7 linked regions of the Homo sapiens genome follow. The protein of the gene in region 1 purifies or fractionates together with the protein of each later gene. This does not show direct contact. Each region holds a gene or a part of one and is shown in the gene's direction. Other genes may lie near its edges. The genes, in order: SNRNP27, ILKAP, SAR1B, TOMM34, EIF2A, NAA15 and ETF1.

Region 1 (3,500 bases):
CAAGTAATTTGTTCAGGACTTACCTTCCACCTCCAAAAAAATACATGAAAATAGGAATAGAAAAGTAAGACCAAATACATTTATTTTAGCCCCACTTCAAATATACTGTTCGTCTGTGTATGCCTTTTGGCCAGTGGGTCAGAATCGGTCTTTGCCCTGACACCAATATCTAATTAAGTACACTACACAGATAGGCTAATCTTGCATAAGTAGTAATGGGAGAGGGAGGAGGTGGGGGTCACTTGTATGTGTCACGACGTTAGCTGATGATACTCATCTAAGTCATTTTCTGAATATCTGGGAGTGCAGTGACCTAGGATGTGAGAATGCAAAGGTGACTCTCAGACATATCCCTCCATCAAGAAGCTTGCAGTCTCATAGGGAAAATAACTTTATGATGTACATCATGGTTTTATAGGGTAGAAAATAGAGGGTACTGGGCTGGGTGCAGTGGCTCATGCCTGTAATCCCAGCACTTTGGGAGGCCGAGGCGGGGGATCACGAGGTCAAGAGGTCAAGACCATCCTGGCCAACATGATGAAACCCCATGTCTACTAAAAATACAAAAATTAGCTGGGCGTAGTGGTGCATGCCTGTAGTCCCAGCTATTCGATAGGCTGAGGCAGGAGAATCACTTAAACCCGACAGGCGGAGGTTGCAGTGAGCCGAGATTGCGCCACTGCACTCTAGCCTAGTGGCAGAGCAAGTCTCCATTTCAAAAAAAAAAAAGAAAGAAAGAAAGAAATAGAGGGTACTGTGAGGAAGGCACAGTTAACATTTTTCAGCAGTTAGAGAAGAGGGCACTTCCTGGCACCTGGAATGTTTGAATTGGGCCTTGAACAATGGGTAATAACCAGATAGTTCAAGTTGGAGGCAGGGAAGGCAATTCAGGCATGAGGAACAACATGGGGGAAAGTGGGTATGTTGAGTTGACTTGGCTGATCAGAAGACCTGAACAAGAATTTGTGAAAAAGAGGATGGGTGCTACATTCAGAAAGGTCAAGATGGAGTAACACATAACAACCTAGCATTTGTGTCTGTTATTCTGTTCTGATTCTTGATTTAAAGATCAAAATTGGGCTGGGCACAACGGCTCATGCCTGGGATTCCAGCACTTTGGAAGACCAACACAGCAGAATTGCTTGAGACCAGGAGTTCAAGACCAGCCTGGGCAACATAGTGAGATCCCATCTCTACAGAAAAAAAAAATTAAAAATTAGCCCAGCTTGGTGGCATGTGCCTGTAGTCCCAGCTACTCGGGAGGCTGAGGCAGGAAGATCACTTGAGCCCAGGAGTTTGAGGCTGCAGTGAGCTATGATCACGCCACTGCACTCCAACCTGGCGACAGTGAGGCCCTGTGTCTAAAAAATAATAATTTTTAAAATGAACAAAAAATTGCAAGGGTTGTACAAGAAATGGGATTTAGATGAATGGCAACCATTCCAGCCATGATATGAGAATATTATTAGCTAAGGTTGTAAGTTAAATTTTGTGTGAATGTGAGTTTTTCTGGAGATTATACCTTTTATCTGGTTTCAAGGTATTCTTTGACCAGAAAAGATTAGATTCTGCTACCCTACTTTCTCAGCATGCTTTGCACATAGTACATACACTGTGAATGTTTGTTGGTTTGAATATTAATTGCTTATACACGATTGTAAAAATGTGAGCAGAGAGTTATACCACTTGGGAGCTCATAGGATCTGGAAATTATCTCTGCCTCATTGGACTCTCCTCCTTCCTCCTTCCTCCTTCCTCCTCCCTCCTTCCTCCTCCCTTCTTTCTTCTCCTTCCTCCTTCCTTCTTTCTTCTCCTTCCTCCTCCTCCTTCCTCCTTCCTCCTCCTTCTTCCTCCTCCTCCTCCTTCCTCTACTTCCGCTGCTGCTGCTGCTGCTCTTGCTGCTGCTTCTGTTTGTGCTGCTTCTCCTGCTGCTGCTCCTGCTTCTTCTGGTTCTGCTTCTGCGTCTGCTTCTTCTGCTGCTCCTTCTGCTGCTCTTGCTTCTTCTTCGGCTTCTGCTGCTGCTGTTTCTGTTTCCTCTGCTGCTGCTGCTGCTTGTGCTGCTGCTGCTCTAGCTTCTGCTTCTGCTTCTGCTGCTTCTGCTGCTCCTTCTGCTGCTTTTGCTTCTTCTGCTTCTGCTGCTTGTGTTTCTGCTTCTTCTGCTGCTTGTGCTGCTGCTGCTCTTGCTTCTTTTGCTTCTGCTTCTTCTGCTGCTCCTTCTGCTGCTCCTTCTGCTGCTCTTGCTTCTTCTTCTGCTTCTGCTGCTGCTGTTTCAGTTTCTTCTGCTGCTGCTGCTTCTGTTTATTCTGCTACTGCTGCTTCTGCTTCTTTTCTTCTTCTGCTTTTCTTCTGCTTCTTCCCCTTCCGCTGCTGCCGCTGCCGCTTCTTCTGCTGCTTCTCCTTCTCCTCCTCCCCCTCGGCCCCCGCTTCTCCCCTACTTCCCTCTTCCTTCCTCCTTCTTCCTTTCTCCTCCTTTCTTCTTCTTCTTTTTTTTTTTTTTTTTTTTTTGAGACTGGATCATGCTCAGTTGCCCAGGCTGGAGTGCATTGGTGTGATTATGGCTACTTGCAGTCCCAAACTCCTGGGCTCAAGCAATCCTCCCACCTTAGCCTTCCGCCAAGTAGCTGGGAGTACAGGTACATGCCACTGCCACCACACCTGCTTTCATGTATCCTGATTTAATGTATCCTTCCTGTTTTTTGTCTGTTTGTTTATTGTTTTTCTTCAGGGTAAGAAGGTGGATGGCTCTGTAAATGCCTATGCCATAAATGTCTCTCAGAAGAGGAAGTACAGGTATGCATAGCCCCCATTATTATGTTTGAACTAATAAATCAGTTTTTTACTTCAAACTTTATTATGAGATAATCATGTTTGTAGGAAATGTAGCAGTTTTCCATACTGTTCCTTGTTTGAATGAAATATTCATTGCTTATATTCTGGTGTGTTAAAATTGTTTTCCCATTTACATGTAAGCTAATAGCTATTAGAGAGAGGGTAGTTGGCTTAAATATTTTAGGACTATAGATAGTAATTTCCTCAGAAAAGCATAATTTCAAGTCTATGGGCTTTGATTTCATTATAATTTAGGTATAAGATAGATCCCTCCTAAACTAGATTGATTATGTAAGGATTTCAACTGTAAATATATTCTTCTGTTAAGTATAGGCATATTTTATTTGTACCACAGTTTTGGAGCGAACCAATCCATACATGAAATCTCACTGAATTCTTAATGAATGAAAAAGTCAAGATATTTTCAAACATTGCCTTTCTCTCTAACTTTGTCGCTGATAAAAGATTAATAGTCCAGTTAATTTAGATTATGAATCATGTGATTGAAAATGCTATAAGCTAAGGTACTAGAATCATCTTGGACAGTCTTTTGTAAAATTACCTTCAAATAAGGTCTTAGGGGGAGAATCATTACAGTGTGCAATTGAATTTGCTCAATGGGTGCCTGTTTTGGAACTCTTTTCTATTTCTAAATTATATGTTTCGTGTTA
Region 2 (3,500 bases), about 170 Mb from region 1:
AGTTTGACTCAGGGCCTGGATCTTAACTTTATGTTCTCTCACTGTGGGACCCCCCTCCCCCTCCCCGCCAACCATGAAGACACAACTCCTGGGTCTGCCTGTGTCTGCCAGTCCTTGCTTCAAATGACCTTGTCTTTGAGTGCTAGGATGAAGCCCAGTCTACTAGTGACTTTTTCCAACAGTCTACAGCTGTGTTTCTGTCTGGCTTTTACTTTATTTCCAGGTTCTCTTGCCACATCAATATCCCAGATGGTAAAGACTGAAGGGAAAGGAGCAAAGAGAAAAACCTCCGAGGAAGAGAAGAATGGCAGTGAAGAGCTTGTGGAAAAGAAAGTTTGTAAAGGTTTTCAGACAATTTGAAAACAAATGTATTAGACTTCATATTTTAAAACAACCCAGAGCAAAACCAGTTTCAGCTTTCTAATAATACTTTCTTTTTATGTCTGTATTTAAGAAATAAGTAGGGTTCCCTTTTTGCAAATGAATTTCCAAGTTTCTCTGTGCTTTCTCCTACTTTTCATGTACATCTATCTCTGATCCTACCTTTGATCAGATAGGAAACCTACATTTGTTCCTCAAGAGTTAAAAAATACAGGTGGTTTTTTTCTTAGCCTTCTGCAGTGAATGGTTAGTTTTTTGACCACCTAGTCTCTCTCTGACTTCCAATCTTTGTTTGCAGTTTGTCAATTAGTGCTTTGAATTACGTGATTTAGCTTAGTAGGCAGCTTCCCTAAGCCTGGAAAAAGCCGTTGAAATTTGTAGTCAGTTGTGTAACTTGTCAAAGTTAGTGAGGAAGAAAACGAAAAGTATTAACTAAAGAGAATACTTCAGTTGTGGTACTAAAGTATTCTTGAGCTGTGGGATTTTCTTTTTTTCTCTTTTTTTTGAGACAGAGTCTCGCTCTGTCGCCCAGGCTGGAGTGGCACCATCTCGGCTCACTGCAAGCTCCGCCTCCCGGGTTCATACCATTCTACCTCAGCCTCCCGAGTAGCTGGGACTACAGACGCCTGCCACCACGCCTGGCTAGTTTTTTGTATTTTTAGTAGAGACGGGGTTTCACCATGTTAGCCAGGATGCTCTCGATCTCCTGACTTTGTGATCTGCCCGCCTCGGCTTCCCAGAGTGCTGGGATTACAGGCGTGAGCAACCGTGCCTGGCCCGAGCTGTGGGATTTTCATTGACTGCATTGTCCTTTGTCACAGATTACCTCAGTGAAAGCTGTATGATGCAGGCAGAGGTATGTGAAAAAACCCACTTGTAGCTTTGCTGGGAAGATGTCATCTTCAACTTAGCTTGTCACTTCCCAGAAGACAGCTCTTCACAGTGTTCATTTTATTATTTGTCTGGCATTAGGTATCAGAAAATAAGCTTAAATGAGTCTAACCATTAAATGTAAATAGATCTCTGCCTGCATTGGAATCTTTTATCCTTTTCTTCCTCAGTTGAAGTAAAAGCAGCTGATCTTACTGTTTGTTCAAATTCTTCACCAGCCTTGAGCATGGAAATACATATTTTCAGGGCATCTTAAGGGCTTTTGAGATAAACTCTCCTGACTTGCATTTGTCCTTATTCAATTATCACAAGACTAATTTGCACATGATCCTTTTGCCTGATTTGAATCTCACTTCTCTGGGATGGCAGCACATCCCTTGCCCTGATGCTTTGACTTACACCCTAGACAGAGTTGTTTTGTGCTCACTGACTCCTCTTTTGTGTCCCTGTGCAACCTCTTAGAGCTCACCCTGTCCAACAGTGCTCCGATTTGAGTTATAGACTTGCAGCTGGGGGAGATGCCTTAAGGGGTATTGCTTATTTGTTTGCGCCATTAGGATATTGCTGAGTCAGACAGTCATAGTTCCCTCTCATTTGCTCTGGGACTAGGGTTTCCAGAGGGTTGGGCACAGTTTTGTATTGGCTCTTTTGTTCTCTTTTCCTTAGCCTCTTCGGTGATCTTTGGTCTGAAGGGCTATGTGGCTGAGCGGAAGGGTGAGAGGGAGGAGATGCAGGATGCCCACGTCATCCTGAACGACATCACCGAGGAGTGTAGGCCCCCATCGTCCCTCATGTGAGTCTCATGTGGTAGGAAGCCCGGCTGGCATTAACATCTCCTGGGTTCTGACTGGCATTTTGGACTGGCTAGTTTGTATTTACTAGAAAATCTAACACATCACTTGATTGTACATCAGTGATTCTCAGCTGGGGTTGATTTTGCTCCCCGCCCAGGGGACATTTGTCAGTGTTTGGGTACATTTTTGTCACAACTGCGGGAGGGAGTTGTTACTGGCATCTGGTGGGTAGAGACTAGGGATGCTGGTAAACATCTTAGAAGCACAGGGCAGCCCCACAACAAAGAATTGTTCAGCCTGGAATGTCAGTAGTGTCGCGGTTGAGCAGCCCTGCTGAGCGGGAGATGACGCTTCATAGCATGGCTCTGCAGCGTGTGTTACTCCTTACCAGCAACTGAGCGGCTTCTGGCAGAGAATATTTTTAATCCATGACCTAGAAGATAAGAGTTGGAAGCCACTAATTAAAGTATGAATGGTGATCAAGCAGAGCTAGTACAGATAATCAGGGCCCAGGAAGAACAAAAGTCAAAATGATGTCAAGGAAAAGACAGACAATGAAAAATTAGCTGCAACTATACAAACTAAAATGAAGCCTTCTGGATAAGCTCTTGGGCCTGGAAAAAAACCAGAAGGTAGGACATTAAGTTGGCTGTAAACATACATTATAGTACATATTACATAGGTTACATAATTCAGAATTACATAATAAATACATTACGTACCTTTACTGACACCAGTTGGTCATTAACATACAGTGTGCTGGAGCCGTTTGGGCTGATGGCGTTTGTCCAGTAGATGAGGTCTGCTCATGGAGATGAGGTGATGGCTGCTGCAGAGCAGCTGATCATATGTAGAGGGGACGAGATACACACCCATTGAGACAGGGTCTTGCTGTCTTGCTCAGGCTGGAGTACAGTGGCACAATCATAGTTCATTGCAGGCTTGACCTCCTAGGCTCAAGCAGTCCTCCCACCTCAGCGTCCTGAGTAGCTGGGACCATAGGCATGTGCCACCACAGCCGGCTAATTTTTTGAATTTTTTGTAGAGACAGTGTCTCCTTAAGTTGCTCAGGCTTGTCTCAGAGTCCTGGGCTCAAGCCATCTTCCCACCTTGGTCTCCCAAAGTGCCAGGATTACTCGCATGAGCCACCATACCCAGCCTGGGATTTGCATTAAAACCAGGAAAGGGACCTCTGGAGCCCAAGAAGGCAGATCCATTGAGTGTAAATTTAATTGGGAACACTACATCATGCCTTGCAAATAACAGGCAGTAAGAACAGCTCTGAGTTATAAACCAGATGAGGTTTTTTTTCTCATGGCTCAGGATGTCCTAAATTGAAAAGGAATTCCAAAAAACTTGAAAGAAAAGCAGCTCTCTAGAATAAATGTCATTTCTCGTGGGCATTTTTGTTTTTTTTTTTTCCTTGAAATAGTT
Region 3 (3,500 bases), on another chromosome or scaffold:
TTGTTATTTTTTGAGACGGAGTCTTGCTCTGTCGCCCAGGCTAGAGTGCAGTGGTGCAATCTCGGCTCACTGCAAGCTCCGCCTCCCGCGTTCATGCCATTCTCCTGCCTCAGCCTCCTGAGTAGCTGGGACTACAGGCGCCTGCCACCACGCCCAGCTAATTTTTTGTATTTTTTTAGTAGAGACGGGGTTTCACCGTGTTAGCCAGGATGGTCTCGATCTCCTGACCTCGTGACCCACCCGCCTCAGCCTCCCAAAGTGCTGGGATTACAGGCGTGAGCCACCGCCCCCGGCCCAGAATTTCTTCTTATTTTCAGACAGAATCTCTCTCTGTTGCCCAGGCTGGAGTGCAATGGCGCAATCTCGGCTCACTGCAACCTCCGCCTCCTGGGTTCAAGTGATTCTCCTGCCTCAGCCTCCTGAGTAGCTGGGATTACAGGCACCTGCCACCATGCCTGGGTAATTTTTTTTTTTTTTTTTTGAGATGGAGTCTCGCTCTGTTCCCCAGGCTGGAGTGCAGTGGGGCAATCTCGGCTCATTGCAACCTCTGCCGCCAGGGTTCAAGCGATTCTCCTGCCTCAGCCTCCCTGGTAGCTGGGATTTCAGGCACCTGCCGCTGCACCCAGCTAATTTTTTGTATTTTTAGTAGAGACGGGGTTTCACCTCGTTAGCCAGGATGGTCTCGATCTCCTGACCTCGTGATCTGCCCATCTCGGCCTCCCAAAGTGCTGGGATTACAGGCGTGAGCCACCGCGCCCGGCCCCCAGAATTTCTTAAGAAGATAAAAACTCTGGGCTAAAGTAGCTACACTAAAACTTATGTTGTCATTATGGGGCACTTGTGCTTTTGGCCATAAGTGAGTACTGGTTCTGGAATTACCCTCCCACTGTACACAACTAGAAAACCGGACAAAAAAAGATGCTACAACTGTTTTCAGACATTGGGCAACAGCTACCACAGGACTGTGATTCCTGAGAGAAAGGAAACAACTCTATTTTGGTTTTATGCCAAGAGGTAATTTTCAGACCATGGTGCAAAGAGAGGACACCCAAACATAGTCCAATAGTCTTGCTGAGTTGAGGAGATGTAGACCAGAATTTGGAAAGGCCAACAGGACTAGAATTTTTTTGCTAGGACAGAGAGGAGGGAGTACCGGAGAGGAGGGACCTCTGGAGAGAAAGGACTCTAGAAATTTACATAGCTGAATACCAATCTGTGCATGCAATGGGTAAAGCTCCAAAAGGCTAGTCAAAGAACAATTGTAAGAATGCTGTTAGCCAAATAATTACTAGAGCTCTCATGGGGCCAGGAATTGTTGTTTAATCCCATTTAGCCTTCTAACAAATGTTAAAAACTGATCTGTAAGCAAGTGAACTGTCAGAACAAAATTCAACCTTCTTCAAAAGACTACAACAAAATCCAGCACTCAATATGAAATTACTAGACATGCAAAGAAACAGGAAAGTGATTCAGTCAGTAGAAACAGACACAAGTGTGACAAAGATGATGGAATTAGCAGATTAAGACATAAGACAATCGTTATGAATGTGCTCAGGGATTTAAAGGAAAACACAAACATGAGGAAAGAAATGGAAGATATAACACAGAATCAAATGAAACTTCTAGAAATGAAAAATACAGTATTTGAAATGAAAATTTCTTTTTTTTCTTTCTTTCTTTTTTTTAATAGAGACAGGGTCTCCCTGGGTTGCCCAGGCTGGTCTCGAACTCCTGGGCTCAAGTGATTCTCCCACCTTGGCCTCCCAAAGTCTGGGCTTACAGGTGTGAGCTACCATGCCCAGCCTGAAATGGAAATTTCACTGGATAGGATTAATAGTAAATTAGATAGTGCCAGTACTGCAGAAAGAAAGACCACTAAACTTAACTCAATGCAACAGAAACTCCAGAATGAAGCACAGAGAGAAAAGTGACTGAAAGCAAAATAAACAGAGCCTCAATGACTGGTGAGACAACATCAGGCAGTCTAACAAACCTGCAACTGAAGTCCCAGAAGTGGAAGGGAGGAGAAAGAAAGATAGTTATGGAAATAATGGCCACAATTTTTTATGGTAATTGTTTTTGTAATTAAAGACTGTCTTATGTCAGCCATAAGAGAAAATTATTTCACCTGTATCATTTAAGATGAATTATATGAACAATTATTAGATTGGAGCAGTTATTTGAATTCATAGCAAATAATTGTCTGAAGAGATTAACATTTTCAGCAGGAAGAATAGAGAAGGAAAAATAAATGTTGGATTTGTGGTGAGTAGAATACTAGAACTGAATATTACAATTATTTGTTATATTGTCAGTATGAATTGGTGTATATCTAATTACAAAAAAGTATTATTGTACCAGTTTGTAAATGTTTGATTTGACCTTATTTGCAATAAAAGTAAATCAAACATTAAGTAGTAAATATAAGCTATTGTTAGAAATGCTTGTTCCCTGGTGCTGTAAAGGATAGCACTTGAACATAAATTTAATTTCCTCAGCAAGGCCATTTTTACTTTCTGCAGAAAGGGTACACTTGCCAGCAGTTTTGCCACAAGAGTACACCGAACAAAGGAGACAGGGTCATTTATAATCTGATGCGTCCACCCTACTGCTGTGTCCGGTTTCCATTGGCTGGAATGGGACCTCACATTCTGTATTTGTCCTGATTGGCTAGCAACTTAGAACTTTTTAAAAGAGGCAAAGGCAGAGGAGAACAAAGGAAGGAGGAAGTAACTTGTGGAATGCTGAGAAAGGTAAAAACACCTTCAAATAAGGAAGAGGAACAGGCTATGACCTAATGCTTGCTTGGACCAGTGTAAGTATGCCAGGGCAAATATTTAGGCTAAATTGTGGGAGCTAAGAACATAAAGTACATTGATTTCTTTATTACGGCTGGCAGATATTTAAGAATGTTAGCACGGGTCTTTGAATCAATTTTGCTTCTAAGAGAAGTTACTATTTATTCTTAATTAGATGGGGAGGAAAGTCTTTGAAAAGGAACCTCTACTTTACTTTTTACACGATTAATGGGTTTCTAATTTTCATGTAAAAATATTTTAAAATCTTATTTAGCTTCCGAAGAACTGACCATTGCTGGCATGACGTTTACAACTTTTGATCTGGGTGGACATGTTCAAGGTAAGATTCTTTTTTTTTTTTTTTTTTTTTTTTTTTTTTTTTTTTTTTTAGACAGGCTCACTCTGTCTCCCAGGCTGGAGTGCAGTGGTGCAATCTCAGCTCACTGCAACCTCTGCCTCCTGGGTTCAAGCAATCCTCATGCCTCAGCCTCCCCAATAGCTGGGATTACAGGCATGTGCCACCGCGCCCAGCTGATTTTTGTATTCTTAGTAGAGATGGGATTTCGCCACGTTCAAGGTAAGATTCTCTTACTCTTACAGTCACTTTGTTTTATTTTAACTTAACAAAAATGTGGCCATTAGTTCTAGTGCATGAAATCTCATTCTAGTCACGCAAGGCCAGAGTAGATTTAAAATTTAGGG
Region 4 (3,500 bases), on another chromosome or scaffold:
AAGCTTCGGATCATTTTGGCAAATTCCAAAAAATGTCTTGTTGGACAGCTTTTGGTTGTGATTGCATTGGATTTATAATTTAATCTAGAGGACTAATGACAAAACAACTTTCAGCCATTGTGGCTAACATTTTATCATGTCCTGGAACGTCTTGGACATAGTCTAATGCTCCACCTCATGTACGCCCATCTGAATGACACAATGCCCAGGCTTTGGCTTACTTTGGCTCCCTTTGTGCAGGTGACATCTGAGTGCATAGCACCTACAACTTGCCAGCCCTGAAACAGCTGTCATAAGAATCTCACTTGTACTCACAACAGTTCTTCAGCTTAGATCATTGTCCTGTGTTACCTAATCAGGCTCAGAAAGATGAATTAGTGACCACAAAGTTAAACAACTAGTACATGGTGGCTGAGATTTAAGCCAGATCTTTGTGACTCCAAAGCTTATTTCCCTTTCACTCACTTGTGTTATTTCCCAACCCCTTTGTAATTAAAACCCTTCTGACTGGATACAGTTACTTCATTTACCAAAAGTCAAGGGGGTTTATTTTATTGCCTGAAGTTATGCATTTTGTTCATCTTAAATATAGTCTTTAGAAGTCTCACATGACCCTATTAATCACATTTCTATTCTGAAGTCACGATACACGGTGGTTCCTCTGCTTCCCAGACACTTGGCTATTTCTTTAAATTGCCAAGCCCATTGGGAGGAAACTTTAATTTCCTTAGAATTCCTCTATGTTTAGAGGTGGCTCATGCCTGTAATCCCAGCACTTTGGGAGGCTGAGGTGGGCAGATTGCTTGAGGTTAGGAGTTTGAGACCAGGCTGGCCAACATGGTGAAACCCCATCTCTACCAAAAAATACAAAAGTTAGCTGGGCATGGTGGCATGCACCTGTAATCCCAGCTACTCGGGAGGCTGAAGTAGGAGAATCGCTTGAACCCAGGAGGCGGAGGTTGCAGTGAGCTGTTATCATGCCACTGCACTCCAGCCTGGGTGACAGAGTGAGACCCTGTCTCCAAAAAAAAAAAGGAATTCTTCTGTGTTCAAAGTTTAAAACGGGCTACTATTCTAAAACTTGGTGATTTACAACAACCATTTTATTTTGCTTGTAATTTGTGGAGTCAGGAATTAGGGAAGGGCAGTTCTCATTTGGGGTCTCTCATGCAGGGTCAGCAAGATGGTAGCTGGGGCTGGAATCCTCTAAAGCCTTCTTCCTCGAATGTCTGGCAGCTGGGCTGCCTGACTCAAATGGCTGGGTGATGGAACTGCTAGAGCAAGCTGGCACCTCTTTCCACTTTCTTAGCAGCCTTTTCATGTGTGCTGCTGTGAGCTTCCTGAGAGCGTGGTGGCCTCAGAGTAGTTGGCTTCTTCCCTGTCAGTTCAAGGCTCCAAGAGCGAGTGTTTCCAGAGACCAAGGTGGAAGCTGCAAGGCCTATTATGACCTAACCTTGGAAGTCACATCGTGTCCCTTCCTCTGTCCTCTGTTGGTCAGAGCAGTCACAGAGCCTGCCCGAATTCAAAGAGAGAGAGCAGATACACCTCCGCCTCTCAGTGGAGGATTGCCAAAGAATTTGTGCCTGTCTTTTAAGTTGTTACAAGAAGATTTTTCTCTCCGTTAATTTATGAATTCCATGCAATCACAAAGGACTAGTAGAATTTTCTTCTTTAAATTCATGATAAGTCAGAAAAAAATGAGAACAACGACATGAGAGAATCTGGTGTATAATAAAGTCTGGGGCAAAGAGAGATTATTTAATAAGAGGTGTTGGGTTGGCCAGGTTAGAGTTAAACTTGAATCCTACCTTGCTTCTTATTTTAAAGTAAGTTCTGAGTGGATCACAGTTTGGAATGTAAAAAGCGAAACCATTAAGTTCTAGAAGAACACATGGATTAACTATCTTGCAGTGGGGAAGGTATTCTTATGTGAAGGGAAAAAAATGTTACAGAAGTCGTTAAAGGAAAAGTTAGAGAAGTTTGATTTCAAAAGATTAAAAACCCTTATTAAAGATGTTCAGCTTTACCCACAACTAAGCAGCTAAGGCAGTGAGATAGTGTTTTATTCCATATTGGCATACATGAAAATTTAAGACCCAAAGTTGGTACAGTTGTAGGAAAATAGGCTCTGTCAATAACTATTCAGCTTTTTTGGAAAGCATTTTGGCAGTAACAATCAGATTTTATTTCTTTTTTTGTTTTGTTTTGTTTAAGAGATGGGGTCTCCCTATGTTGCCCAGGCTGGTCTCAAACTCCTGGGCTCAAGTGACCTTCCCACCTTGGCCTCCCAAAGTGCTGGGATTATAAGCATGAGCCACTGCACCTGGCCAGTCAGGTTTTAAAATGCATGTATCTTTGGATACAGCAGTCCCTTGCACAAGGATGTTCATCATGGCATCACTTATTTACAAACTGGAAACAATGAAAAATACCTCTTGATAGGAAATTGGTAAAATAAATTATGCTACATCCAACTTAGTGAATACCCTGCACCCACTGAAAACAGTGAGGTGGAACAGATGAACTTATGTAATGAGCGCCCAGACATCTGACTGTTTTGTTTTTAGTGACTGTCTTTGGAGAGAAGGACTAGATCTGAATGAGGAAGATATATACACACATGCACTTTTTTGAACCCACAGATGCAGAATATATTGTATGGATGCACATAACTTTTTTCCAACATTTTATTATGAAAATGTTCAAAATATAGGAAAGTTGAAAGATTTGTACATTGAACACCCATAGACCTACCATCTAAATTCTACAATTAGTATTATTACATTGCCTTATCACTATTTAGCCATCTGTTGGTCTGTATTATTGTGTTTGATGCACTTAAAAGTAAATTGCAAACGTCTTTACATTTCACCCCATGTCAGCATTATATCATTAGAGTTCAGTAGTTGTTGGGTTTTTTTTTCCCCCTTAAAGTAGATAATTTTTTAATCTGTCAAGGGAAAAGTTTCAGGAAACCTTTTCTTTGCTTGAAAGAGCTCAGTATAGGAGAGCGCAGTACAGCATGATAGAACTAGATGAGATCAGGATCTGGAGTCCCATGAACGAACGCCCGCCTATTTGAATCCTGGGTCTGCCCCTTAATACTGGCGGTACCTGGCCCAAGTTCCTTTACCCTTCTGAGCCAGCATGTTTCATCCATGAAAAGGGCTAGGATTGTTGTGAGGATTTAAGAAGACATAAAGTAACCAGCACAGAGTAGGTGTTCAGCAAATTGGAGATCACTTCTCAAACTACTGCGTGGCATGTGGGTGGCCCATAAGACGTGACTGAAACCTCTGAAATGGTCTTTCCCTTCAGAGCACTCTGCTATTTGGTCCTGAAGCAGTACACAGAAGCAGTGAAGGACTGCACAGAAGCCCTCAAGCTGGATGGAAAGAACGTGAAGGCATTCTACAGACGGGCTCAAGCCCACAAAGCACTCAAGGTAAAAAAAAATCCTGGCCAAAAGGTCCCAACATAGCTACAGAGATTTATGCCAG
Region 5 (3,500 bases), on another chromosome or scaffold:
GGTTGCTAGGCACATAAAACAGCAATGTCCATTACGTGAAATTCACATTGTCTAATCTGCTTGACCAGTTGAAGTCACAGAGATAATTTATTCAAAATTGAGTGATTTTCCTAAACTAATACATAGTTCAGTGAATGTAAGAGTTGGGAAAAGTATCGTATTTTAAAGATGACTACACCCCTGCCATGGGATCCTTGTTTATTGAAGCCCTGTGTTTTTCTCTCTCTAACTCAGGCCTAGAGCAATAAATAGTATATGAATGTCTAAAAAGGCTAGTAAGCTTGGAAAAGATTATGTAGATGTTTAATGTATTTCACACAGCTACTGTGTGAAACTGGCGTTTATTTGTTGTCTTAAAAGAACTGCTTGCATTCTAGATTTTTCTTTCTGCTAGAACATATTGCCAATCCCATTTGATTGAAGAGGGAAATCACTAAAAACAGGGAATCACACAAACTCAGAATACACTATATTAAGCTAACTACGCATTGTATTTAGTTTCACAGATACTTGTAACTAAAAAGGATTCCTTGTTAGAAAGTTACATGTAGAAAAAAATTGTTTCAGTATTGAGAAGTTTTTTAGTCCCTATTTATTTTTGCTTTTATTAGTTTAAAACAGTTTATGTTCTGTTATGGACCTGATTTTGTGTTTTTTTCTAATAAACTTTGTATCACAGCTTATCAGGAGTAAATTAAACTGTATATGCTTTTATTAAATTTATTTAATAGAAAAACTAATTAAATCTAGCAAGGCATCTTAGAAGTACAAAATGTCAGTTTGGGCCAGGTGGCTTACAGCTGTAATCCCAGCACTTTGGAAGGCTGAGGGAAGCAGATTGGATTGCTTGAGCTGAGGAGTTTAAGACCAGCCTAGGCAATGTAGTGAAACCTCGTCTCTACAAGAAATATAAAACTTAACATGGCTTGGTGGTGGGTGACATGATCATGGTTCACTGTGGCCTTGACTTCCCAAGTCCAGGTGATCCTCCTGCCTCAGCCGTGCGAATAGCTGGGACTACAGGCATGTGCCACCGTGCCCAGCTAATTTTTGTAGAGACAGCATCTCCCTATGTTGCCCAGGCTGGTCTTGAATTCCTGGGCTCAAGCCATCTGCCTGCCTCGGCCTCCCAAAGTACTGGGATTACAGGTGTGAGCCACCACGCCTAGCCTGAGCCCTATTTTGTTTTCCAGCTTCATCATCCTCTAGCCACACAGGCCTTCTTTCCATCCCCTTGACGCTCTGTCGTTTTTCTTTCCATGGGGTTTTTGCACTTGTTAACTGTTCTCCTTGCTTGTTAACTGCCATTGATCCTTTACATCTCAGTATACAAAACACTTAAGGATGCTTTCCCTAACCTTCCATTTTTAGGTTAAAACTCTCTTTTATACCCTCAGTGGTACCATATACCTTTCCTTTGAAGGACTAAACACAGGTATATGATTCCGTATATTTGGCCAATTATTTGATTACTGTTTGCAAAGTTCAATGAGGTCAGAGACAAGGCTGATTTTCTTTCCTATTATTTCGCCAATGTTCAACACAGGGCCTAGGAGGTAGTTTGTTCGTTTTTTTCCCACTAAGCATTTGTTGACTAAATGAATCTATTTATTTGGTTCAGCTTTAGAAGCATTTAATTCAACCATTTAAAAAAGTATAGTCTAGGCTAGGTGCGGTGGCTCACACCTGTAATCTCAGCACTTTGTGAGGCTGAGGAGGGAGGATTGCCTTAGCCCAGGAGTTAGAGATCAGCCTGGGCAACAGTGAGACTCTGTCTCTACAAAAAAAAAAAATAGCCAAGCAGGGTGGCACATGCCTGTAGTCCCAGCTACTTGGGAAACTGAGCCAGGAGCATCACTTAAGTCCAGGAGTTTGAAGTTGCAGTGAGCCTTGATCATGCCACTGTACTCCAGCCTGGGTGACAGCAAGACCCTGTCTCAAAAAAATAAATAAATTTAAACATAGAAATAAGAAGTATAGTCTAGTTCTGTAGATGATTATTTAATCTTGAACTTTGTTTCCACTTAATTTTTTAGGCTATTACTGTCATTGGGGCCTTAATAAATGAATATGTCTCATTCCACTTGTTCTCTTAGTTTGATAAATTGTGAATATATTAATATTGCCTTATATTTCTAAAAACTTTAAACATATACTTTTTTTATTACTTTATATAAAGCATACAGCTATCCTGTGTTCTGATATTTCCATTTTACAGATTAGGTCACAGATTCAGAGGTGGTAACGTATCCAAGGTTCCACAGGCAGTTATAAACTTAGGTCAGGCTCTGAATTCATGTCCTCTTTACCACAAGACAGCTGCCTTTCTTTCAGTGGTGACAAAGTTTCGAGTTTTATTTAAAAAGTTACGTATTTCTCAGCAATTATATGATTTTATGTAACAGAGTAAGAAAATATGCCCTTTTGTTGCTAATATTCTATAGTTCAATGAAATATTTAATGATTTCATTAATATTTTGACTAAAGCTGCTTTTTTAAAAAACACATTTGTGTTAACTGAGTCTTTATTAACAAAGTAATTGTGGTTCTTTTTATTTTACTTCTTTAGTCCGAGGATCAGAAGGACTGTACATGGTGAATGGACCACCACATTTTACAGAAAGCACAGTGTTTCCAAGGTATGATTTATTTTGTTAAGTAATGTTATAGGGAACATACAGTACAATCTAAAATGGTTTTGTTGGTGGTGTATTTTGAACAAGAAAGGAAAAGAACAGATGAACTCATTTTTATTGTATAATATTTACCGAAGATGAAAAGAATACATATTCTCTATCAAGGAAAATGATCTTCAGATCTGAAAATAGTAACTTAAGCCTATTTATAAGGTAGGGGGAACAATACTAAGAAAAAGTGTAGACACTAGTGTAATTGAATACAAGCCTTTATTTTACAAGAGTTGTATCTTAAGGAATGAGAAAAACTTGCAAATTTGATAGCCAAATCATGGCCAGTAATCTTAGTGAAATCATAATGAAAAAGATATTAAAAAGGGAGGACATATATATGCACATAGTATATAGCTAGCTAGATTAATTTTTTTTTCCCCAAAGAAACAATGGACAAGTAAACCAAAAACTAGTTAAAAATGCTTATCTATAGGGGGAGAGAGTTACAGAATGCGGGGGAGAGAGTTACAGGATGCAGGGGACACATCTGTGAAAGAGCTTTGGTATAGTTTTGACTTTGGACCATATAATTGTTTTAAATTTAAAAATTAAATTAAAAGCTGGGCCCGGTGGCTCACGCCTGTAATCCCAGCACTATGGGAGGCCAAGGCAGGCCAGATCACCTGAGGTCAGGAGTTCAAGACCAGCCTGGCCAACATGGCAAAACCCCATCTCGGCTAAAAATACAAAAATTAGCCGGGTGTGGGGGCAGGCGCCTGTAATCCCAGCTACTCTACTCGGGAGGCTGATGCAGCAGAATCGCTTGAAACCCGGAGGTGGAGGTTGCAGTGAGCCAAAATCAGGGCATTG
Region 6 (3,380 bases), on another chromosome or scaffold:
AGCACAAAGAGTTGTTGGGGCTTTAGCATCTGACTGATTTTGTTACGGGGTTGATTCTGACCATAGGAAGTATGCAATGTGAATCACTATTTACAGAGAAACCTACAACAGATGCTTGATGTTGTAGAAACTGGGACATATAGATACCAAGCAAAATTATAAGAAACCTATAAGGTGTTCAATACGCTTGTGTTTCCAAAATTCACTGTACATGATCAGTTTGGTGTTCTTGTACCACAGTTTTTAACTGAAGGAACCAGTTGTAACAGTCTCAATTTTAACTAAAACTTGAAGAACTAAAACAACAATGCAAACCTTTCAGCATTGTTTGGCCAAACTTGTTAAAACTGTAATGCAAGAACCAAATGCACTGTGATGTGGCACCAACTAATTAGCAAGCATGAATTTTTCACCCAAGAGTGAAAAAAGGAAAATCTACCATGGCTTGAAGTTAAAGAGCAGAACTCCTGACTACCATTCTATGACTGATCAAAAGACTAATAGTTAAAAACCTCAGCAGGCCTTGTTCACGATATGCAGAAAAAAAAGTGCTGCAGTTTAGATACCTCTGGAATTTTTCCACAGTGTCACAGGTTTGTAATACTTGAAGCCCTACATTTCTAAGAATATATTTCTTGCTCAGTTGTTTCAGGCAAGCCCAAGACTTTGTAATTTTTAAAGGGCCCAAGATTTTTTTTTTTTTTTTTTTTTTCAAATAACAGACCAGCTTCTTTTTCTTGCAGTTACAGATGTAATTTCCTTTTTGTTGTCAAACATAAGGTACCAAATATGATGCAATAAATTGTTTTGAAAAACAGTTGTGTGAATATTTCAACTAATCTGTGTTGGGCTTCTGTGAAATACACAGGTGGAAACAGAGGTGCAAGCCAGAGGCAATGTAATATGCTGTAAGGCTAGTGCAGATGGGAGCTTTTTAGAAGGGGCTAAGTGCTGGTGTCAGGGAAATTCCATAATGAAGTAGAATGCTGCTCCTGCATTAAGATTTCATTGAGGGCAAGGCTGGTGGCAGGTACTATGAATGTAATTCATAATTTAAAAGGAAAACTAAAAACTATTTTGATTTGGGAAAATGAGCCTTAATTTGTTAAACCTATACACTGAGAACTAGCCTCAGGCTTAATATTCTCATTGCATTTGCAAGATCTGAGCAAATAAGATTAAGTAAAACAAATCAATTGTATATATAATTGACCTTTTTGTGGAACATGTAGTTTATAGAAAGTATACTCTAAAGGGAATTTGCCGAAGACCTTTTACTGATTGAACAGTTGTGCTACAATCAACTTTTCATAGTACATGACCTGCATTCCACATCTCAGTCTAACAGTTTAGTAGTGATGTAAAGAGAAGTACAAACCGAACTCCAGTGCTTTGTTATGTTTTATTAACTGGCCCTGTCTCAGGAACATCTTAACAGATGGCAAAAAAACAAAAACTTTTTTTCAACTCCTATGAGTGGCAACTGAAGTTCTTATTGTTGGGAAAGAACACTAGTCCTACCTCTGCCACTAATGAGGTGTTTGGAGGAGGTACCAGCCATATAATAGGGGGTGTATGTGTGAATTTTGTTTAAACTCTACTGTATATTGAAATGAAATTCATTTATTTGTCTTGACAATGTTCAAATGATGTAGATTGTCTTAGAATGAATATTCATAAGTACTCAGAACTCTTAAGATGCAGATGCCACCCGTGAGGAGCTAAATTCCTAATGTGTATTGTATTCCAACCCAATTTTACTGGAACTATTGAATAAATCTTTTATTTTCTTTCAGGTTTACTTGATAGTGGATACATTGGTGTCAGAGGACCTTGACTGGGTTCATTTTATGTCCAGACATCACCCCTGAAACACTGTACTGTACTATCTTGCTCTGAGTAGTATCAACTGGATCGTCTCATATTTGCCTCATTCATCCTATTAATTTCAAATGATACTGTGGGGGAAAAACAGGGTTAGAAAAACAAGTGGAAAAAATGGAGTGATGTTGTAATCTAAACAAGTGCCTTATGTTTATTGCTAAGAACTGGTGTTACCAACCCTTTTGAGAAGAAAGGGTCTCTTGACCTGTATTAACATAGGAAAGTAAAGTTCTTTTTGTTTTTCTTTATATTCAGCTACTCTTGTCATTTCTCGTTGAAAAACTAAAATCTGACTAGGTTAGTTTACTCAGCTTTAATTAGATAGTTGAGTCATATATTTTCAACATTTTTCTGTATCGTATTTATTATGCACAAAAATAAAGTGTGATCTCTAATAGCATGGCTAAAGGTAATGCCAATATTAGTGAATAGCTTTGCTGTGGGCTTTATCAGGCCCTTGTTTTTCACAGTGTTGTTTGTACTCCATGGTGTATTGCTATTAGAGCTGTGAAATGAAAGCTGTGACTTTATGAAGAGATCAAAAAAAGTGTGGTCCAGATTCAGGTAGGTTGTGGTAAGTTCAGGGAAGTCTTGTATGATTTCTAAGAATATTTCAGTTACCATGTATAGTATTTGGGAAAAGCTGTAATGTAAAATATTGGACTTTGTTGCAAGATAGGTATATACTTGTGTCAGATAATTAAAGCCTTAAATTTTGAAATGAATCTTTGAGATTTCAAAGAAAGACTGACCTTTCAAATAGAAGGCGGTCTTTCTATTCTAGCTAATGCCCCACTTCTTTAAGTTATAAACAAAGTTTCATGATACCATTCTGCTATCATCTAAACTTTGCTGAACTCTACTGCCAACCTACATTAAAAACAAAGTCCCACGAAATGGCTGTGTTACACCATAGTGAGCAGAAACTTAAATTTTGTTCTAATTTTGATGGTTGAAAAATTTCAACCTGTAGCAATAAAACATTTTTGGAAAAGATTACTGAATTGCACTTTTACCTTTTAGTATGCAATCTGAGATCGTTGTTGAAATTAAAATATTGGTAATGTACAGGAGGTTCTGGAGAAAATAATGCTGGTGTTTTTTGTTTTGTTTTGTTTTTGAGACGGAGTTTTGCTCTTGCTGCCCAGGCTGGAGTGCAATGGCGCGATCTCGGCTCACCGCAACCTCAGCCTCCTGGGTAGCTGGGGCTACAGGCATGCGTCACCACGTCCGGCTAATTTTGTATTTTTAGTAGAGACGAGGTTTCTCCATGTTGATCAGGCTGGTCTCTAACTCCCGACCTGAGGTGATCCGCCCACCTCGGCCTCCCAAGGTGCTGGAATTACAGGTGTGAGCCACCGCACCCAGCCAATAATGCTGTTTTAATAAATCAGAAGAGTATCTTTTATGTACTGTCTTGGTTATATACTATATTCAAACCTGCTGCCTCCATCAGGACACACCTCCTCTTTTGTTGTTGCTGTTTTGTTATAGAG
Region 7 (3,500 bases), on another chromosome or scaffold:
TCTTCGATCCTATTTGAAGAGTAGGAAGGAGAAATTTGCCTTCCCACTGCTGGATCTGTTCAACTAAGAGGCTGGACAGTAGAAATTACTTCTCAGTCCAGCCTATTCTCTAGGGCTCTCAGAATAGAACCTTCTCCTAGGATACATTCTGTAGGTGTCTTTTAATTCTTCAGCAGCCTACTATCTTAGTGAGGGGGAGAAGGAATTAGGAAGGTTCAGGCTTTTTTTCCCCGGCAGGTTAGAAATTGAGAGTCTGAGGTTTCTCACTGGGTACTGTCCTCAGAGAGTATGATGAAGCTCCCTCTGATACGGTTTTATCTTATGCCATTTGACACACATCCTTGCCCACTCTCTTTACTCTTCTCACAATCCTTTCAGGTTCAGAGGACTTGACATTTTCAGGTGCCTGGCAACTGGTTCTTATCATACAGATAGCTCTGCATGTTGAGTTTGTACTCTTGTTTTCACATTTTCATTTGTTCTTCTAAGATCTCCTTTAGAAGAATGATCATAGTCAAAATAAAAGGTTCTTTTTGTTTTCCTGCTGTGTCTGTGACCTTATAAACTAGATTTTCCTCCAAAATACACATCTGGGTATATGAATATGAAGCCAGAAATGCACTTTTACTATTAACCAGTAAGCTAATGGGCTTCACCAAACATCTGCTGTGAGTTGGGCACTAGACATTTTGGAAGAAATATGTAATAAAATGAAAACATGATCTGCCACACAACCATGGAATGATAATATAAACCATTTTCAACTCCATATTAGTGAGTACAGAATAACACAGTACATGTTGAAGGGGATTTAGTATAAGCAGATGATTAAGGTCTTTTTTTTTTTTTTTTTTTTTTTTTTGAGGCGGAGTCTCGCTTTCCCGCCCAGGCTTGAGTGCAGTGGTGCGATCTCAGCTTACTGCAACCTCCACCTCCCAGGTTCAGCTCAGCCTCCCGAGTAGCTGGGATTACAGGTGTGTCCCACCAAGCCTGGCTAATTTTTTCTTTTTTTTTTTTTGAGACGGTCTTGCTCTCTTGCCCAGGCTGGAGTGCAGTGGCGTGATCTCAGCTCACTGCAACCTCCACCTCCCAGGTTCAAGCGATTCTCCTGCCTCAGCCTCCCAAGTATCTGAGATTACAGGCACCCGCCACCACAGCCGGCTAATTTTTGCATTTTTTAGTAGAGACAGAGTTTTGCCATGTTGGCAAAGCTGGTCTCGAACTCCTGACCTCAGGTGATCCGCCCGCCTCGGCCTCCCAAAGTGCTGGGATTACAGGCGTGAGCCACCGCGCCTGGCCGAAATTCATCTTTTATTAAAAGGAGGTTGCAGTGAGCCGAGATCGTGCCACTGCACTCCAGCCTGGGCAACATAGCCAGTCTCTGTCTCAAAAAAAAAAGCCAATTATTCATCCATGGGCTTCAGTTTCCCCATCTGCTTCATGGGGGAACTAATGCTTTCTTCTTCTTCTTTAAAAAAGGTAACATTGGCTGGGTATGGTTGCTCATGCCTGTAATCCCAGTACTTTGGGAGGTCTAGGCAGGTAGATCACTGAGGTAAGGAGTTCAAGACCAGCCTGGCCAACATGGTGAAAACCTGTCTCTACTAAAAATAAAAAAATTAGTTGGGTGTGTTGGCACATGCCTGTAATCCCAGCTACTCGGGAGGCTGAGGCAAGAGAATCGCTTGAACCCAAGAGGCGGAAGTTGCAGTGAGCCAATACCAGCCTGGGCTATAGAGGGAGACTCTGTCTCAAAAAAAAAAAAAAAAAAGAAACTAGTTTTCTGAGGATGAGTAAGCATACATTTGACCCCCCCCCTTATAACCTTATAACAGCTCTGTGAGGAAAGCTATTATTGCCATTTCATGGATGAAGAAATTAAAGTACATACAGGGAGTAAATAGCTGCCTAATATCACAGCCTTTAGTAAGGGTCAGTGCCAGATTCTGTACTCACTTTTCTGATTTCAAAGCCTGTGGTGCTAATTTGTACAACACTACCTTGCCCTTTGGCAAGTATTTCTTTTGCTGAATAGAGACGTCTCCCATTCCCTTCTGAAAGGAAGACTCTTGTCCATGGAGATTTGTAATTTAGTAGGAGGAGCAGGTGTGCTGAGACTCAGGTGCAAAGATTTAAAAGAAAACAGACATGCTATTTCCACCCTAGGAAGAACTTGGATACTGAACATGTTTATTCTTGACGAGCATCAGTGGAGAGAGAAATAACTTGTTGCAAAATCCCTCCCCAGGAGCTCATTCGTATATTAGAAAGATCTAAGTAGTGAAGTAATGAATCCCGAACACTGGTTGTGATTGCAGTCTCTTGCTTTGCACTGTTGTAAGAACACTAGAGAAATTTTCCAGCTTCAAAGCTGCTTCCTGGTGGAATATTCCACTGGGTTTGTGAAGATCTTTTAATTTTTCTTTTTAAGACTAATAATGCCTATCATTGTAGAAAAAGTGTACACACTCTACCAGATGTGTACATTTTTGTTTTAGATGACTGAGTAAATCTTTGTTCTCTGGGGGACAGAAAGCTAAAATGAACCTTTGTGAACTTTATTCTGAAAATGTTTGGACATCTGAGTTATTCTGTACCCTAGGGTGGAGGTTGCTGTAATGTCTCAGTAAGTTCCGGTCTTGGTATTTCTCCCATTTGGTAATAGCATCTGACTCTAAGGTCAATTGCATAAACTAATTTCAGGTAACTTTCCTAGTCCCTTTGAAGGGTAACAGAATCATCCCTCCTAATTTGATAGTCTAACTAAACCTTTTATAAAAGGCAGCCCCATCCACCTCCTAACATGCCTCATAGATGGTAGTAGCAGAGGGAGTGGGGTGGCATTAATGTGAGGATCAACAAAATTAAAATGACACTTCATAAGGGTTGGTTTTGTTTAGTGCTGGTTTTCTTAAGGTAAACGCCTAATATAGTATGATGGTTTGAACTTTTAGGTGCAGTGAAAGATGGGGACAGTTAGTCAATTTAAGGCACATTAGTTCCTCTCCAAGGACTGACAATTTGTTGTTGGTTTTTGTTTTGTTTTGTTTTTGAGGTGGAGTCTTGCTCTGTCTCCAGGCTGGAGTGCAGTGGTGCGATCTTGGCTCACCGCAACCACTGCCTCCCAGGTTTAAGCGATTCTTCTGCCTCAGACTCCCAAGTAACTGGTACTACAGGTGCGTGCCACCACATCCAGCTAAGTTTTGTATTTTTAGTAGAGACAGGGTTTCACCATGTTGGCCAGGATGGTCTCGATCTCTTGACCTCGTGATCCGCCTGCCTCGGCCTCTCAAAGTGCTGGGATTACAGGCGTGAGCCACTGTGCCCGGCCAGATTTTTTTATTGGTATTTTATTTGGTAGTTTAGAATAAATCTCTGGTGTTTGCTTAAAAAAGAGTATATAGAGATGATGGTAGGAATTGGCCATTTATTCATTTTTCAAATGTTTGAGCACCACTATGTGCTAAAATGATTTTTGCCCTCAGGATGCTTATATACAC

Evidence for each region.
Region 2: the proteins of SNRNP27 (region 1) and ILKAP purify together in Homo sapiens (affinity purification with mass spectrometry; 2 studies listed by BioGRID and IntAct, with this or other methods). This does not show direct contact.
Region 3: the proteins of SNRNP27 (region 1) and SAR1B purify together in Homo sapiens (affinity purification with mass spectrometry; 2 studies listed by BioGRID and IntAct, with this or other methods). This does not show direct contact.
Region 4: the proteins of SNRNP27 (region 1) and TOMM34 purify together in Homo sapiens (affinity purification with mass spectrometry; 2 studies listed by BioGRID and IntAct, with this or other methods). This does not show direct contact.
Region 5: the proteins of SNRNP27 (region 1) and EIF2A purify together in Homo sapiens (affinity purification with mass spectrometry; 2 studies listed by BioGRID and IntAct, with this or other methods). This does not show direct contact.
Region 6: the proteins of SNRNP27 (region 1) and NAA15 purify together in Homo sapiens (affinity purification with mass spectrometry; 2 studies listed by BioGRID and IntAct, with this or other methods). This does not show direct contact.
Region 7: the proteins of SNRNP27 (region 1) and ETF1 purify together in Homo sapiens (affinity purification with mass spectrometry; 2 studies listed by BioGRID and IntAct, with this or other methods). This does not show direct contact.

The regions. Positions count from the first base shown.
Region 1 is NC_000002.12:69,900,456-69,903,955, forward strand, and holds part of SNRNP27 (U4/U6.U5 small nuclear ribonucleoprotein 27 kDa protein), read left to right. Parts: intron 1-2,725; coding exon 2,726-2,790; intron 2,791-3,500. UniProt on the Homo sapiens protein: May play a role in mRNA splicing.
Region 2 is NC_000002.12:238,186,696-238,190,195, reverse strand, and holds part of ILKAP (integrin-linked kinase-associated serine/threonine phosphatase 2C), read left to right. Parts: intron 1-223; coding exon 224-343; intron 344-1,938; coding exon 1,939-2,065; intron 2,066-3,500. UniProt on the Homo sapiens protein: Protein phosphatase that may play a role in regulation of cell cycle progression via dephosphorylation of its substrates whose appropriate phosphorylation states might be crucial for cell proliferation.
Region 3 is NC_000005.10:134,612,329-134,615,828, reverse strand, and holds part of SAR1B (small COPII coat GTPase SAR1B), read left to right. Parts: intron 1-2,796; exon of another isoform or gene 2,797-2,815; intron 2,816-3,072; coding exon 3,073-3,138; intron 3,139-3,500. UniProt on the Homo sapiens protein: Small GTPase that cycles between an active GTP-bound and an inactive GDP-bound state and mainly functions in vesicle-mediated endoplasmic reticulum (ER) to Golgi transport.
Region 4 is NC_000020.11:44,943,398-44,946,897, reverse strand, and holds part of TOMM34 (mitochondrial import receptor subunit TOM34), read left to right. Parts: intron 1-3,318; coding exon 3,319-3,445; exon of another isoform or gene 3,446-3,446; intron 3,447-3,500. UniProt on the Homo sapiens protein: Plays a role in the import of cytosolically synthesized preproteins into mitochondria. Binds the mature portion of precursor proteins. Interacts with cellular components, and possesses weak ATPase activity.
Region 5 is NC_000003.12:150,549,787-150,553,286, forward strand, and holds part of EIF2A (eukaryotic translation initiation factor 2A), read left to right. Parts: intron 1-2,569; coding exon 2,570-2,639; intron 2,640-3,500. UniProt on the Homo sapiens protein: Functions in the early steps of protein synthesis of a small number of specific mRNAs. Acts by directing the binding of methionyl-tRNAi to 40S ribosomal subunits.
Region 6 is NC_000004.12:139,388,505-139,391,884, forward strand, and holds the end of NAA15 (N-alpha-acetyltransferase 15, NatA auxiliary subunit), read left to right. Parts: 3' UTR 1-2,880; downstream 2,881-3,380. UniProt on the Homo sapiens protein: Auxillary subunit of N-terminal acetyltransferase complexes which display alpha (N-terminal) acetyltransferase (NAT) activity. The NAT activity may be important for vascular, hematopoietic and neuronal growth and development.
Region 7 is NC_000005.10:138,533,237-138,536,736, reverse strand, and holds part of ETF1 (eukaryotic peptide chain release factor subunit 1), read left to right. Parts: intron 1-3,500. UniProt on the Homo sapiens protein: Component of the eRF1-eRF3-GTP ternary complex, a ternary complex that mediates translation termination in response to the termination codons. The eRF1-eRF3-GTP complex binds to a stop codon in the ribosomal A-site.